2 separate regions of the Homo sapiens genome follow, and region 2 is linked to region 1. The links come from fine-mapping of genetic effects on gene expression. A gene starts in region 1. The other region holds a variant in brackets. All regions are shown on one strand. Distances are between the middles of the regions. Region 1 holds the start of IGHMBP2 (immunoglobulin mu DNA binding protein 2). Region 2 has its middle 11 kb from the start of LINC02701.

Region 1 (8,576 bases):
CTCGGGAGGCTGAGGCTGCAGTGAGCCAAGATTGCACCACTGCACTCCGGCCTGAGCGACAGAGTGAGACTCCATCTCAGAAAAAAAAAATCTCAAACTCTGCTCAGGTCTGACTCCAACCTACAGGTTCCCCTCCTGGCCCTCTCCTCTCTCAATACCCTCATCTCATCTTCTCCAAATCCAGCCAGTATTCCAGTAATTGTTGGGCTAAAGTCTACGAAATCAAAATATGAAATTTAAAACTCCGTCACCACCAAAACAAGGCAGAGACACTTCCATAGTAAAAAGTACAGCCCTGGCAACGCTGCTTCCTCCAGGCTTCCAAGGCTGTGGTTGTCTAACACAAGCATCCCAGGCGTGTGGTTAAGAAGCTTCTTCTAACTGTCCCTCCTTTCCAACCAGGCTGGCACAAGTTTAGCCAAAGCATGCTTGGCACAAGAAAGGGTTGGGAATACAGAAGTACACATCCTGCATGTTTACCAGCTGGACCAAGGCTGCCCATTACATAGAAACATAAAGAGAGTCACATGTAGTTTTTCTTTTGTTTTTGTCTGTTTTGAGAGAGGGTCTCACTTTGCCCCCAAGCTAGAGTGCAGTGGCGTGATTTCAGCTCACTGCAGCCTCAACCTCCCAGGTTCAAGCGATCCTCCTGCCTCAGCCCATCAAGTAGCAGGAACTACAGGCACACACCACCACATCTGGCTAATTTTTCTATTTTTTTGCAGAGATGGGGTTTTGCCACGTTGCCCAGGCTGGTCTCGAACTCCTGAGATCAAGTGATCCACCCACCTCGGCCTCCCAAAGTGCTAGGATTACAGGCACCCAGTCACGTGTAGTTTTAAGTTTTCTAGTAGCCATATTAAGAAATTTAAAAGAGGCTGGGTGCACTGGCTCACACCTGTAATCCCAGCACTTTGGGAGGCCAAAGCAGGCGGATCACCTGAAGTTGGGAGTTCGAGACCAGCCTGAACAACATGGAGAAACCCCGTCTCTACTAAAAATACAAAATTAGCCAGGCACGGTGGCGCATGCCTCTAATCCCAGCTACTCGGGAGGCTGAGGCAGGAGAATCACTTGAACCCCGGAGGCGGAGGTTGCAGTGAGCCGAGATCATGCCACTGCACTCCAGACTGGGCAATAAGAGCGAAACTCTGTCTCAAAAAAAAAAAAAAAAAAAGAAAAGAAATGGGTAAATTATTTTAATAAGATATTTTTTATTTAACCCAATATATGAAAAATATTATTTCAACATGTAATCAGTATTCAGAAAAATTACTCAAGATATTCCCAATTGTTTTTTTAACATAATCTTCCAAATTTGGTGTGTATTCTGTATCTGCGGCAATTACAAGCCACACTTCAAACATTTGATGACCACGCATGGCTAATGGCTACCATTTTGGACAACGCTGATCTAGACAACTAAAACCCACATCAATTGTTGGACTTCTGATTAAGAGTTCTTCATTGCAACGCTTTATTCTCCAACTGGTCATTTTAATCCAGTCTTTACGAGGGTACAAGTCACGGTCTGAATGCCAGTAAATTTCAATGTCTGTCTAGGTCAATACGCACACACCAGAAGTAAAGCTGTTACTGGGAAGAGCTGCCGCGGACCCGTATCGCCTGGGCTCAAAGGTGACCAGCAGCCGTCCGTACAGCCCAGTGCGCTGGCTGGATACCTGCAGCTTCAGCAAACACACGCCTCGGCTCTGGAGCTCTTTCAGAGAGATGTTCTCCTGCCAGGACCTGGAAGACACCCGGTATTGATGCTTCAGGATTTTTACTAGTTTCTACTTCCACCCACCCAGGAAAAGTAAAAGAGAAAGAAACATAGATAAAGATCTACTCACAGGCACTAAATATGTCCCAATGGAACTCCGAATTGGCTCCACTCCCAATCCCGCTCCTCCTACATCCCCCTAGGGCAGTTAATGCCACAACCCTTCTCTCAGTTACCTGAGACAGATCTTTCAATCAGCATTCCCCTCTCTCCTCCCATCTGTCACTAAGTCCTATCAGGCCCCTCCCATTTCTACCTGGACTTCTCTGCCTCTCATCCTGGCTGCCACAGCCCCGGTTCAAATCCACATCACTGCTCACCTGGACTAAACAGAGCCTCTCAACTACCTTACCTCTGGCCTCTCCACGTCCAATCAAAAGCAGGAGACCCAAGAAATCCTCCTAAAATGCAAAGCTATTCGCCTCCCTCACCTGCTTAACCCCGCTGATGGCCCATCCTTCATACACAGAACAGAAGACTAGCTCCTTAGCCAGGCCCTTCCCAGGCTCGCCCTGCCAGTCTGCTCAGCATCCTCAGAAAGAGCCACTGCCATGGGGGCTGACTCTGTCCTTGGCACCACGCTGAGCACCTGACTGACAGGGGATCGTTTCATTCTCAGAGCAAGCCTGTGAGGTGGGAATCATCCCAGTTTTACAGATGAAGTAAGTAAGGCTCAGAGACAGAACCTGCAAAGTCACACAGCCATAAATGAAACAGCTGGGATTCTAAGAAACTCAACATAACTGCAAAAGCTCTCCATTGCCATGATCAAAAGCATCTCAGACAAATCCTACCCACATATGGCTGACTGCAAACTCTGGAAGCAGACTGCCTGACAGCAAATCGGGCTACACTGTGTCACCCCGGGGCAAGTTACTTAACCCCTCTCTGTCTCCATCTCCTTAGACGGAAAATGACAGTAACAGAAACCTACACTGCGGCCGGGCACGGTGGCTCACGCCTGTAATCCCAACACTTTGGGAGGCCAAGGCGGGCAGACCACGAGGTCAGGAGATCGAGACCATCCTGGCCAACATGGTGAAACCCTGTCTCTACTAAAAATACAAAAAATTAGCAGGACGTGGTGGCGCGCCTGTAGTCCCAGCCACTCAGGAGGCTGAGGCAGGAGAATCGCTTGAACCCGGGAGATGGAAGCTGCAGTAAGCCGAGATCGTGCCACTGCACTCCAGCCTGGGCGACAGAGAGAGACTCTGTCTAAAAAAAAAAAAAAGAAAAAGAAAAAAAAGAAACTTACACTGTAGGGTTGGCATGGGATGAGGTGTAAAAGAATTAACGCATGGAAAGTACGTAAGTGTTAGCTCTGATTGTTTTGGACAAGTAAATAGTCCCATTCGGAAACAAGCCCGGCTCTCACATGGCTCCCCACACCTCTCAGGACGGCTCCCCACCCTACTCCGCACCCACCAGCTTAACTCCAATTTTCCTTCAGGCACCACTCCCTCCTTGAAGCCACCATGACCCTCCCCAGGGAAGGGCCTTCCTCCTCCAGGCTCTTTCCCCGCGACACGCACGCAGCCGGCCCTGGACGCACTGGAGGGGAAGGGACTCTCTGCTTATGCCCAGCCCGCCGCTGGCCGGATCGGGGGCAGCCAGTGCACCTGACTCATGCTGCCGGGGCCTGACTGAGAATGGGCGCAAACCATGTTTACTGAATGAATAAGGGAAAGGGCTGCTAACTCGCTGCGGGTGGAACTGGGGTCGGGGCCAGGGCCCAGGAGTGTAAGCTTAGTGGGGGGTCTCGGGTCGGGAAATCAAAGTGCTTCTTAAGGGTCCCCAAACGGAACGCGCTGCCCAGGAAGTGATGAGACTGACAACTCGGGAGGTGGCCAAGCAGGGGACGGACGATCCCTGCCCCTGACTCGAAGGGTCGGAGACGAAATTCCCGCCCCAGACTATGAGGCCGAGCCCCTCGGAGACTCTGCCCGGGACACGGCGGGACCGACCGCGAGGGAGCGGCGCCGGCGGCCTCCCGTACCTGCGCTCCTCCACCTCCGCGTCTCTCTCAAGCTCCAGCAGGTCCAGTTGCTTGGTCACGAAGCTCTCCACAGCTGCCGAGGCCATCGCCGCCGCCGGCCTGGGCCCCTAGAAGCCGACGTCCCGCTTCTGCGCCGGGCCGGTGTTACAGCGGACCGGTGTTCCCCGCCGGGCCCGTGCGTTACGCACGCGGTTCGCGTCGTTTCCGTTTCCGGCCGAGGCTGCGGCCATGGCAGCATCTTCCCTGACGGTCACCTTAGGGCGGCTGGCGTCCGCGTGCAGCCACAGCATCCTGAGACCTTCGGGGCCCGGAGCAGGTGAGACCTGGGATATGGGAGGAAGGGAGGACGCAGAGCGAGCGCTGCTCCCTGCGGTCTCGCCACGTATGTGCCTGGGTCCGACCTGGTGCCTTGTGTGTTGATCGCATTTGTGGTGAATATAGCACGGGTTTTGGAGTCGGGGGAACCCAGGTTCAGATTTTGATTCCTTCAGTTAGTAGCCTGAATACTGACAATAGCCCTTGAACTTTGGTATAGGCCCTATGTTATGGGGGAGAAGAGTGAGGCTCAGAGGAGCTAGGTAACGTGCCCAGGGTCACACAGCGGGGAAGTGGAAGAAGAGTACTTCAGGCGCAGTCATTTCGGCTCCAAAGCCTGTGCTTGAACCACTGCCCCCAGGCTGCGAGCTGGTCTGAAAAATGGTGATGGATATCCTCGCCTAATCTGAACTCATTCTGCAAAAGAAACAGCCGTATTTAAGGCGCTGGGCTGATACGAGGCTCCAAAAAGGTTATGTCCGTTAAAAACTCTATAAATCTCTGCTTGAAAATGGTTGGAGTGTGTATTTGTGTGCATGAGTGTTTATGTATGTTTTAAACCTGGGTTTCATGTCTCACCATGACCCCCAAAAATGGAAAACTGGATCTAACTCTATATTGGACGATATTAAAAGAATAGTACCATAATTCCCAAAACTTGGAAGCAACCCAGATGTCCTTCAGGAGATGAATGGTTACATAAACTGTAGGACATCCATACAGTAGAATATTATGCAGCAATAAAAAGAAATGAGTCATGAAGAGACATGGAGGAAACTTACATACATGTTACTAAGTAAAAGAAGCCAACCTGAAAAGGGGACATCTTGTATGTTTCCCACTATGACATTCTGGAAAAGGCAAATCTAAGGAGACAGTAAAAAGTTACATGGGGGGTAAGAGGATTGGGGGAGAAAAGGATAAATAGGTGGAGCTCAGAGGATTTTTAGGGCAGTGAAACTATTCTGTATGATATAATGGTAGATACATGTCATTATAAGTTTGTCCAAATCCATAGAATGTACACTACCAAGGGTGAACCCCTAATGTAGACTATGGACTTTGGATAACAATGATGTGTCAATGTAGGTTCATCAATTGTAAAGATTGTACCACTCTGGTGAGGGATGTTGATAGGAAGCTGTGGGCACATGGACAGGGGACATATGGGAACTCTCTGTACCTTCCACTCAATTTTGGTGTGAAACTAAAACTGTGCTAAAAAATAAAGTCTATTAAGAAATTAATAATAATCACAGAGTTGGGCCAGAGGCAATGTAGATGCCAAAATTGGCCATGAGTTGGTAACTGTTGAACCTGGAAAGGGATAATTGAGAGAGTTCACTATTCTGTTCTCTTTACTTTTGTATGCTTGACATTTTCCATAATAAAACTTAGGTTTAAGTAGGCAGGAAAGTTTTTACAAAAGCAGTGGGACTTACTCCATTCTACCTACCTACATGAAACCACCCCTCCAATGCTATGTTCAAGTACAGACTCACGCATTAGGAGAGAAAGACACACAGTGAAGCGAGTAGAGACAAGGTGACCAAAACAGTGAGCAGCTGGGGCCTTGAAGAGTGAGCAAAGGAGACGTGATGGAAGTACACAGTCACAGTCTCTAGGACTACCTAAAGGAAATCCTGTGGGAGAGGAAGGAGACTGTTTGTTCCCTGGGGACCCAAAAACAAAGCTAGAAGCAAATTAGGTACAGAAGCCTGCTAAGTTTTTAATAGTGGGATGGATTTGCCAATGGGTTGACTGAGTAGTGTGCGAGAGAAGAGTCAAAACTGATGGAGGTTTGGGGCCTGAGCAACTGGGAGGATGAAGTTGCCCTCATGTGAGAGGGAGGAGTGTGGGAGAAGCAGGCATGGGAAGAAATGAGGAGCCTCTGGAGGTGTGAGGTGCTCGTCAGACACGAGTGGCTAAGGCAGATAGATAGGTGGGTATGCAAAACCAGGAGAGAAGCCCTGGCTGGAGGTGTAAACTTGGGAGTCACCAGCACATTGGGGGTGTTTAAATCCATCGGACTGGATGCAGTCACCAGAGGAATGGCCATGGGCGGAGAGGAGGTCAAGGCCAAGGGTTGAGCCCCGGATGCCCAAATGGGAGAGGAGAGGAGAAAGCAGCCGAGGAGATGCAAATGGGGAGCTGGTGCTAATGGGTGAACTTTAAAAAGGTGGTTTTTATGGTGTGTAAATTATAGCTGAGTTTCTTTAAAAGTGGTTATTGAGAAACTGTTCTCTGCTTTTTACACCTAAGCACTTATTTTGATCCCCTGTCTTCTCAGTAGATTGAATGTCTTTGTTTCCTGGTGTATTCCTGGTGTATGCGTTATCTACGGTTACATCAGAAATTACCCCAAAACTTAGCAGCTTAAAACATTTATTAACTCACACCAGTTCTGAGAGCCAGGAACACAGAAGCAGCTTAAGTGGCTGGTTCTGGCTCAGGGTCTTAGCTTGCAGCAAGCAAGTCTGCAGGGGCTGTAGTTATCTCAAGACTCCACTGCGCCAGCGGCTGGAGAATCTACCTGCAAGGTCGTTCCCATGGGTGTTGGCGATAGGCCTAGTTCCCCGCCATGTGGACCTCTAGGTAGGGCTGCTCACAGCAGGGCAGCCCTAAGGCCAGAGATCAGAAAGGGTGAGCACAGGCATCCAAGATGGAAGTCCCAGTTGGTTATCACCTCATCCCAGAAGCCACGTGCTAGCATGTCTGTCACTAGCTGTTGGACACACAGGCCACTCCCAGGGGGCTAACAGGGGTAAGAATAGCAGGAGGCGGGGCCCAGCAGGGCCATCTTGGAGGCTGCTCCCACGCTTGGGCACAGATCAGAGTCTGAACCTACCAGGCACTTAGTCAAGGCATGAGTTAGTGGACGGGTGGTTCTGGTCTCAGGCGCTTGTAGATGATGTGGCTAACTGATCTCAACACATATAACCAGTAGCTGTAAGTGACGTTCTTGTAGTTTTGCTCACCTAGGTGTTTCTGTGGGCAGGCTGTCATGCAGTGGTTCATACCATGTACCAGGAGCAGCAGCTGTGCATTTAGCATCATAAAGGGCAGTTTGCATTTGTAGTATTAATGGTAATGATCTGTGTTTCTCTTCTTCCCTCAGCCTCCCTTTGGTCTGCTTCTCGAAGGTTCAATTCACAGAGCACTTCATATCTACCAGGGTAATATCAAAATGTGGGTTTTGGTGCCTCTTTTCCTTTCATTTGTAGAACCATCTTTCTAAAGTCAAAACTTCCTACCTTTTGGTTCTCAATAATATTTAAATTTCCTCTTTTGTTTTTAAGAGACAGAGTTTCACTATGTTTCCCAGACTGGTTTTGAACTCCTGGCCTAAAGTGGTCCTCCCGCCTCAGCCTCCTGAGTAGCTGGGATTACAGGCATGCACCACCACTTTCAGCTTTAACTTTTTTGACGGTATTTTTCTGAGACCCTTAAAAGAAGACGTAACTGCAAGAGACCAAAGAGAAATTCTGTATGTGTTTGCTCTCTTTTATTATGGAGGAGCTTGAAGTCTTAACTCAAGATTTCTGATGAGGAAGTTTGTATCAGAGTCTCTAAGAGAAACTCATTATTTGAAAAAGCACATTCAGTGTTAAAATTTTATACTTGAGAAAACATTTTTAGGTATCATAAACTGCAGAAAACATTCGACAAAGTTCCACTCACTGGTGGGAGACACAGGAGCAGTGCAGGGATAGCAGTTACTGTAGGGACCCCCCCGGGGTGCAGTTCCGGCTGCCCCTCACAGCCTGGGACGCCAGGCTTCTGCAAGATGGAAGTAATGTTCATTTCTATCTGCATGGGTGTTGGAGAGGATTAAGTAAATGTATACATTTAAAGCTCTTAGAACAGTGCCTGGCATACAGTCAGCACTCACAAAACATTGGCTGCTGGAACTGCTGCTGGGACTCCAGGGATCCTCTGCAGTGGGGAGATGTGGGAGTCTTTCTTGCTTCTCAAAGAAGCGGCAAAACATTCTGAGCATAGGAAGAAGTTGTAAGTGAGCATGTGGGTAGGTTGTGCCTACTACCCCTGTGTCCTGTGTGAGAGGTTAGCACCTTCCTGCCAGCGTGTTCTTCTCACACTGGGCACTGCTGAACCCGTATGGGGAGACTAGACATCAAACAGGTCAAAGACGTTTTGTAGAGAGCAGCACCTTCCTTGTCCTCCTTGTCTCTCAAGGTCATTGACCAACCACAGATCACGGAGTTCATGTCTCTAGGAGCTCCAAGCCCTACCCCACTGGGAAAGCATTCATTCCTCTCCCAGATTGGTGTGGAGCCCCTCCTGCGCGCCAGCCAACAGGACGGGTGGGCCTGGTCTTTGGTGTGGAGGCCGGTGCATTTTGCATATGGAGCAAGTCGTTTTCTTCCTCCTAATGCAACCCTGGAGTAGAAAGACTGAAATTTTACTTTGCAGTGGCAGCAGCAATAAAAGCTTAAAAACGGTTCTGAATAATTCGGTTTG
Region 2 (8,576 bases), 24 kb after region 1:
GTTCCCAAGGTGGGCTGGTATTGCCTCTTCAGTGAGGTGCAGATGTCGGTGGGATCCTGGGCCAACTCAGGAAGGTCAGTGTCAGGCAAGACTGATGCCCCAGGAGCTTTGCAGAAGAGACCAAGTCCCAGACAGGCCAGACATAGCTCTGGAGGCATCAAGCATGTCATTGTACTGCAATGCGTGCGGGGGGCTTGGTGTTATCTAAAAGATCCAGGAAGGGGCTGCATCAGGGGCCCAGGAGGGACAGCAGCTGCTTGTGATTCTCTCCCAGCATCTCCACACCCTGGGGGCCTCAGACTCCTGGGGCCTTAGCCACTTCCAAGGCAGGCCACAAGCTTGTGGTGGCTCACAGAGATAAGAGAAGCACACCTGGGGCTGGGAGCGGGGGCTCATGCCTGTAATCCCAGAACTTTAGGAGGCCAAGGTGGGTGGATCACCTGAGGTCAGGAGTTCGAGACCAGCCTGGCCAACGTGGTGAAACCCCATCTCTACTAAAAATACAAAAAATTAGCTGGGTGTGGTGGTGGGCGCCTGTAATCCCAGCTGCTCGGGAGGCTGAGGCAGGAGAATCGCTTGAACTCAGGAGCGCAGGTTGCAGTGAGCCAAGATCGCACCATTGCACTCCAGCCTGAGCAACAAGAGCGAGACTCTGTCTCAAAAAAAAAAAAGAGAGAGAAGCACACCTGGAAGGCTGGGTGCTCTCCGACCCACTTCCTGCACGGACACCTCTTCCCGTGACTGGGCTCTGCAGAGTCGAGGCCCTGGCTCCCGGGGCATAGACCAGGAATGGTGCAGAAACCCTGGCTGACTTGTGTTCCTGAAAGGCGCCATCTTGCTTCCTTCTTTTCTTCTTCCGGGTGATGCTACCAGGAGACACAGAGGTCCTCCCTCCAGAACCAACACTCAAAGGAACTGATGGATGGAATACAGTTGTGTAAAATAAAATCATATGGCACGAGGGCTGCCATGACTCAGCAGGACAAAGAAGAAATGGACAAAGGGTGAGAAGATGCAGTCCTTTCCCTGAGTAGACAAAGGAACATGGAAAGCCGGGCACAGTGGCTCACACCTGTAATCCCAGCACTTCAGGAGGCCGAGATGGGTGGATTGCTTCAGCTGAGGGGTTCAAGACCAGCCTGGGCAACATGAAGAAACCCCATATCTACAAAAAATATGAAAGTTAGCCTGGCATGGTGGCACATGCCTGTAGTCCCAGCTACTTGGGAGGCTGAGGAGGGAGGATCGCTTGAGCCAGGGAGGTCGAGGCTGCAATGAGCTTGTGTTCACCCCACTGCACTCCAGCCTGGGAGACAAAGTAAGAACTTGTTTGTTTCAAAAAATAAAAGAGAAACAGGCCAGGCACGGTGGCTTACACCTGTAATCCCAGCACTTTAGGAGGCTGAGGCATGTGGATCTCTTGAGCTCAGGAGTTCGAGACTAGCCTGAACAACTTAGGGAGACTTCTTCTCTAAAAAAAAAAAAATTAACTAGCCAGGTGTGGTGGTGCACACGTGTAGTTCCATCTACTTGGGAGGCTGAGGAGGGAGGATCCCTTGAGCCTCGGGGATGGAGTGAACCAAGATTGCACCACTGCACTCCAGCCTGGGTGACAGAGTGAGACACTGTCCAAAAAAAAAAAAAAAAAGAAAGAAAGAAAGAAAGAAAAAGAAAGAAGAAAGGAAAAAATAAAAGAGGAACAGAGAGTGTGGTGCCCAGTGCTTCTGGGTCCAGTGGAGTAGGAAGGTCCCTGACTGCTGAAGGAGCTCACAGTGATGTTTGTTGAGCGTTTCTATGTGCAGAGCACTGGACCAGGCACAACCTGTGCAATTCACCTAACCCCCTTCCTAGGAAGGGCCTTGTGACAGAGGCTCTGGGACTTTTCACATCTTACACATGAAGAAACTGAACGGCACAGAGGTTCTGGTGAGTCTCACCCCTGGCTGCACTTTATTTTTATTTATTTTATTTTAGAGATGGGGTCTTGCTCTGTCACCCAGGCTGGAGTGCAGTGGCACAATCATAGCTCACCGTTAACCTCCAACTCCTGGGCTCAAGTGACCCTCTCACCTCAGCCTCCCGAGTAGCTGGGACCACAGGTGTGTGCCACCAGGCCCAGCTAATTTTTGTATTTTTTTTGTAGAGATGGGTCCTTACTATGTTGCCCAGGCTTGTCTCAAACTCCTAGCCTCAAGCAGTCCTCCCTCCTGGGCCACCTAAAGTGCTGGGATGACAGGCATGGGCCACCACACCAGGTCCCTGACGGCGCTTTAGAATCCCCTGGTGTGTTTGTCAGCACAGGGTACATTCTGCAACCATAACAAATAAGCCCTAGCCCTTGGGGGCTTTACTCTAAGATTTTATCACTTGCTCACAAAAATAAAACCGGCTCACATCAGACAACCGTGGAATACTGTGAAATATACTGGGTCTTTGTCCCCTGTTCTGGGCATAGAACACCTAAAACCCTTGGAATTTCCAGAGTCATGGGATTGTCTTTTGTGATTCATACGTGCCCTTTTGATCACAGCTGAGTTTATGCTAATGAGATAAATTAGGGTAGGGCCCCCAAATAACCTCAGATTGGGGAGGGTTTGCAGTCACCAGAAAGACCAAAGGACTCCAGGGCTGGAACTTTCAACACCTCCTGCTAACCTCCAGGAAGGAGGGACGTGGTGACTAGAGATTAACCTCTTTGAAAACTTTTTTTTGGCCGAGTACGGTGGCTCAAGCCTGTAACCCCAGCACTTTGGAGGCCGAGGCGGGTGGGTCACCTGAGGTCAGCCTGGACAACATGGTGAAACCCCATCTCTAGTAATAACACAAAAAAATTAGCTGGGCGTGGTGGCAGGCACCTGTAATCCCAGCTACTCAGGAGGCTGAGGCAGGAGAATCGCTTGAACCCGGGAGGCAGAGGTTGCAATGAGCAAATTCGGCACCATTGCACTCCAGTCTGGGCAACAGAGCGAGACCCTGTCTCATTTTTTTTTTTTTTTAATTTTTGTCACCCAGGCCCACCACCTCACCTGACTAATTTTTAAATTTTTTGTAGAGAAGAGGTCTCCCTGCGCTGTCCAGGCTGGTTTGGAACTCCTGAATTGAAGGGATCTTCCTGCCTTGGCCTCTTCCAAAGTGCTGGGATTGCAGGCGTGAGCCACTGCCCTCAGCACTAAAAAACCTCTTGAACAACTAGATCTGATGAGCTTCCAGGATGCTGAACAGGTGGAGATGCTGGGCAGGTGGCATGTTCAGAAAGGGGATGGAAGCTCCGTCCCAGCCCCACCCCAGCACACCCTGCCCTGTGCATCTCTTCCATGTGCCTGTTCCTGAGTTTGTGTCCTTTCTAATAAATCGGTGAAGTGTTTCCAAGTTCTGTGAGCTGCTCTAGCAAATAACGGACCGTTAGGAGAGTGTCGTGAGAACCCCCAACTGACAGGCAATGGGTTAGAAGTGCTGGAGGCCTGAGCTTGGACTTGGGATTGACATCCGAACTGGAGGCAGTCTGTGGGACTGGGCGCTTAACCTGTGGGGTCTGTGCCAACACCAGGTCGACAGAGGCAGCATTGGATTACATTGCAGGACTGCCCAGCTGGTATTTGGAGAACTGCTTGGTGTGGAAAAAAACACCCACATCTGGTGTCAGAAGTAGAAAAACACAGTGTGTTTTCCCCCAGTTGGTGTCAGAATTGTGAAAGGAAAATAAAATCTGGAGACCCCAAACCTGCTATGCCAAAGGGAAGGGCTAAGCTGGGAAGCCAAGTGACACAAATCCTGCCTTTCCTTTTGTTCCTAAACACAGAGCAACAAGATAAGAGGCCACCCGTGAAGAGAGGCCACCCTGACAATGTCAATTAACAGCTTATCTTCACAGGCATGGAACAAGAGGAGACTAGAAATGGTTCCCACTGGCCGGGCGCAGTGGCTCACGCCTGTAATCCCAGCACTTTGGGAGGCTGAGGCAGGCAGATCACCTGAGGTTGGAGTTCGAAACCAGCCTGACTAACATGGAGAAACCCCATCTCTACTAAAAGTACAAAATTAGCCAGGCGTGGTGGCACATGCCTGTAATCCCAGCTACTCAGGAGGCTGAGGCAGAAGAATCGCTTGAACCCGGGAGGCAGAGGTTGCGGTGAGTCGAGATTGGAAAGAAAGAGAGAGAGAGAGAGGGAGGGAGGAGGGGAGGAAGGGAAGGGAAGGAAAGAAAGGAAAGAAGGAAGGAAGGAAGGAAAGAAAGAAAAGATACCTGCCATCACCACCCACCTCAATGCATATTTGACTTCTTTCTCATAAAAATGTAGTTTTATTGAGCTCGAGAAGAATACATAATGGACTGTTCCTCTGCCTCCTTTTCACATGCAACGTGTGGATTCAGTAGGTTTAACCAAGACCTCAAAACAATGTGACTGTACCCTCCCTCTTTTTTTGTTTTGTTTTGTTTCGTTTTGTTTCGTTTCATTTTGTTTCTGAGATGGTGGCTCTGTGGGCCAGGCTGGAGGGCCATGGCATGATCTTGGCTCACTGCAAGCTCCACCTCCCAGGTTCAAGCTATTCTCCTGCCTCAGCCTCCTGAGGAGCTGGGACTACAGGTGC[C/T]CACCACCACACCCAGCTAATTTTTGTATTTTTAGTAGAAATGGGGCTTCACCATGTTGGCCAGGCTGGTGTCAAACTCCCAACCTCAAATGATCTGCCCACCTTGGCCTCCCAAAGTGTTGGGATTACAGACATGAGCCACCGTGCCCAGCCCTGCCCTTTTTCTTTTTAATTTTTTTAATTTTTTTTTTGTAGAGACAGGGTTTTGTTATGTTGCCCAGGTCGGTCTTGAACTCCTGGCCTCAAGCAGTCCTCCCACCTCAGCCTTCCAAAGTGTTGGAATTACAGGCGTGAGCCACCACACCCAGCCTTATAGCTCACATTTTGATGAAAAGAGCCACATTCCACCTCATTTTAAAGCCAGAGCCCCACCCCAAAGTGAACATGGAATGTATGTTACATGCATGTTTACCCATCGCACGTGCACTCAACCCCCATTATGAACAAATATAGCTTTTCCTCCAAACCTGCTGAATACGTGTGACTCTGCTGTGTGATACGGGCCCTGTGAGTCATCAACCTCACCTGCCCTTTCCCTCTTGGAAGACAGCAAACCTTCAGTCCACACCGGAGATGACCTCTCCCTGATTTGCAAGCTGAAATCACCAGTCCAGCTCTTTCTACTATCTGGCCATCCTGGTGGCCTTTTGGACGACAGGCTGCTAGCCTCAGAGCTGACTCCCAAGGGCAAAATGACGCAGGAATAACAGAAAGTGCCTCTGAGAACTCTGGTCACCAACAAGGTGGTCCACAGCAGGGAGGACAGAACCAAGCGACTGCCAAAGCCAGGCCGTGGAGTGTGACGGAAGGGTTTCATTTTGTAGCTCCATGTTTTCTGCTTCCTGGGGCGCCTTTAGGAAAATGGATTCTGGCAGTAGCTGATTTAGGATCAGTGTCTTCAGTTTTAAATGCTGCAGGGTGGAAGAGTGTGTTTGGGTTGACACAGCACCCGCAGCTCACCATGGGACAATCACGGGGAGCTGTCCCTGATTCAGACACGCAGGAGGTGACTCCCAAGGGGACAGCTGGACTGCTGGACTGGGTAAAAGTCACTGTAGGGTCTGTGTACCCTGAGAAAGGTCCCTGTTCCTTTCCTCGTCTACATGCCAAGTCAAATGTCTCAGACGGAGCAGCTCATCAGATTTGAACACAAGCCATTTGATGTTGGCTTTGTGATGAACAGAATGTGTTTCTACTGGACATGCCCATTACCCAGGTCATGGAAAACGCTGTGTGTAAGGGTGCTTGTTTGTTTGTTTTGTTTTGTTTTGTTTTGTTTTGTTTGAGACAGAGTCTCTCTCTGTTGCCCAGGCTAGAGTGCAGTGGCATGATCTCAGCTCACTGCAACCTCTGCCTCCCGGGTTCTAGCGATTCTCCTGCCTCAGCCTCCTGAGTAGCTGGGACTACAGGCACACACCACCATGCCCAGCTAATTTTTGTATTTGTAGTAGAGATAGGGTTTAATCATATTGCCCAGGCTGGTCTCAAACTCCTAGACTCAGGCAATCCTCTCACTATGGCCTCCCAAAGTGCTGGGATTACAGGCATGAGCCATCACACCCAGTCTACCTGGGACTTTGGACTAGAAAATTTCCATTGGAGGGGCATTTACTAACTTGCTGTTAGACATTAATTGAAGCTACCTCATGACTGAAGGACATAAAATAATCTTGAAACCTGAAATACCTACAATACCTTGGGTGACATCACAGAAACCCTCTAATGGAGATGACAGCGCCAAGAAAAGTTCCGTAACAACACGAAAATGGTTCATATAGGATGGTGAACCATCCTATATGAAGGCAAGGATGGGGACTCCTTGCTGGGGAAGGCAAGGAGGAGACTCACAAGCAGGGAGAATCCCCTGGGACTGACTCTGGAACTGTGTGAGGAGCTGCTGGATGTTTTTTTTAACTTTTATTTTAGGTTCAGGGATACATGTGAAGGTTTGTTACATAGATAAACTCATGTCGCAGGGGTTTGTTGTACAGATTTTTTTTTTTTTTGAGACAGAGTCTCGTTCTATCCCCCAGGCCAGAGTTCAGTGGCATGATCTTGGTTCACTGCAACCTCTGCCTCCTAGGTTCAAGTGATTCTCCTGCCTCAGCCTCCCAGGTAGCTGGAATTACAGGCACCTGTCACCGCGCCCAGCTAATTTTTGTATTTTTAGTAGAGATGGGGTCTTGTCATGTTGGCCAGACTGGTCTTGAACTCCTGACCTCAGGTGATCCTCCCACCTCCGCCTCTCAAAGTGCTGGGATTACAGGCTTGAGCCACCACATCCGGCCTGTTGTACAGATTATTTTATCACCCAGGTATTAAGCCCAGTACCCATGTATCTCACGTTGCTAATAAAGACATACCCCAGACTGGGTTATTTATTTATTTATTTAGAGATGAAGTCTCACTCTGTCACCCAGGCTGGAGTGCAGTGACATGATCTCAGCTCACTGCAACCTCTACCTCCTAGGGTCAAGTGAGTCTCATGCCTCAGCCTCCCGAGTAGCTGGGATTATGGGCATGTGCCACCACATCTGGCTACTTTTTGTATTTTTAGTAGAGATGGGGTTTCACCATGTTGGACCGGCTGGTCTTGAACTCCTGACCTCATGTGATCCACCTGCCTCAGCCTCCTAAAGTGCTGGGATTACAGGCTTGAGCCACCGTGTCCCAGGAGACTGAGTACTTTATTTTAAAAAGAGGTTTAATTGACTCACAGTTCAGCATGGCTGGGGAGGCCTCAGGAAACTTACAATCATGGCGGAAGGGGAAGCAAGCATGTTCTTCTTCTTATGGCATCAGATAGGAGAAGTGCCAAGCAAAAGGGAGAAAAGCTTTTTATAAAACCATCAGATCTTGTGAGAACTCACTCACTATCATGAGAACAGCAGCATGGGGACAACCTGCCCCATGATTCAATTACCTCCCACTGGGTCCCTTCCACAACACGTGGGGATTGTGGGAACTACAATTCAAGATGAGATTTGGGTGGGGACACACCCAAACCGCATTAACCCGATAGTTATCTTTTCTGCTCCTCTCCCTCCTCCCACCCTCCACCCTCAAGTAGACCACCCTCAAGTAGGTCTGTTGTTTGCTTCTTTGTGTTCATAAATTCTCATTTGAGCTGCCGGATTTTATCATCGCTTGGGGAATGCCCCATACACAGCTGTCAACTGGCCAGGAAAGAGCTGCCTGGTTAGTGGTGAATAGGAAACATCCGGTCTGGAGGGATGCCACTGTGATCAAAGAAGGGTGGAAACAAATCAGCTTGGTGGGCTGAACTGCACACTGTTTTCCTGGCAGTGGTGGAAGAATTGAAAGGTAGGCCGGGCCCAGTGGCTCACGCCTGTAATCCCAGCACTTTGGGAGGCCAAAGTGGGCAGATCACTGGAGGTCAGGAGCTTGACAGCAGCCTGGGCAACACGGCGAAACCCCATCTCTACTAAAAAATACAAAAATTAGGCAGGCGTGGTGGCAGGTGCCTGTAATCCCAGCTACTCGGGAGGCTGAGGCAGGAGAATTGCTTGAACCTGGGAGGCAGAGGTTGCAGTGAGCCGAGATTTCACCACTCCACCCCACTCCCTGGGTGACAGAGCAAAACTCCATCTCAAAAATAAAATAAATAACATAACATAACATAACATAACATAACATAACAAAACAAAATAAAATTGAACAGTGGTGGGAGCCCCTGTGTTTAGGTTTTTACTGGCTCCTGGGCAGCGGCCGCATGGTCAGGCAGGAGGGTGGTAGAAACCTGGCTTATTGAAGGGGTGGCCACGTGGGGCGCGGCCCTGTGGAAATGTGGGGGTTCCTTCAAGTAGGACACATCGATGCCCATCAGAAGAACTTGTGCGTACTGGCTTAACGTGGCCACCACTTGGGACCGCGAAATGAATGGGTGTGGGGGGAACTGCCGCAGTGCAGGGATGGGCTGAACTGAACCCTGCTGATGAGTAGGTTTCCTTCCCCAGGTGGCACCA

The links. PIP is the estimated chance that this variant, and not a neighbour inherited with it, causes the effect.
Region 2: its variant is fine-mapped to the expression of IGHMBP2 in whole blood (TOPMed, PIP above 0.99). The same link has a PIP of 0.9 or more in blood mononuclear cells.

Annotation. Positions count from the first base shown.
Region 1 is chr11:68,899,242-68,907,817 of GRCh38, reverse strand. IGHMBP2 (immunoglobulin mu DNA binding protein 2) reads right to left here and starts at 3,927. Exons shown (of 15, transcript NM_002180.3): 1 at 3,780-3,927; 2 at 1,580-1,749. The coding sequence starts at 3,865. It overlaps MRPL21 (mitochondrial ribosomal protein L21), which reads left to right and starts at 3,986. Exons shown (of 7, transcript NM_181514.2): 1 at 3,986-4,095; 2 at 7,213-7,270. The coding sequence starts at 4,008. RefSeq lists enhancers at 3,445-3,504, 3,835-3,954, 3,386-4,113.
Region 2 is chr11:68,874,743-68,883,318 of GRCh38, reverse strand. No RefSeq gene overlaps it. Among named protein-coding and RNA genes, the nearest start is that of LINC02701, 11 kb to the right of the region's middle. The variant C/T (reference allele first, on the strand shown) is at 4,591.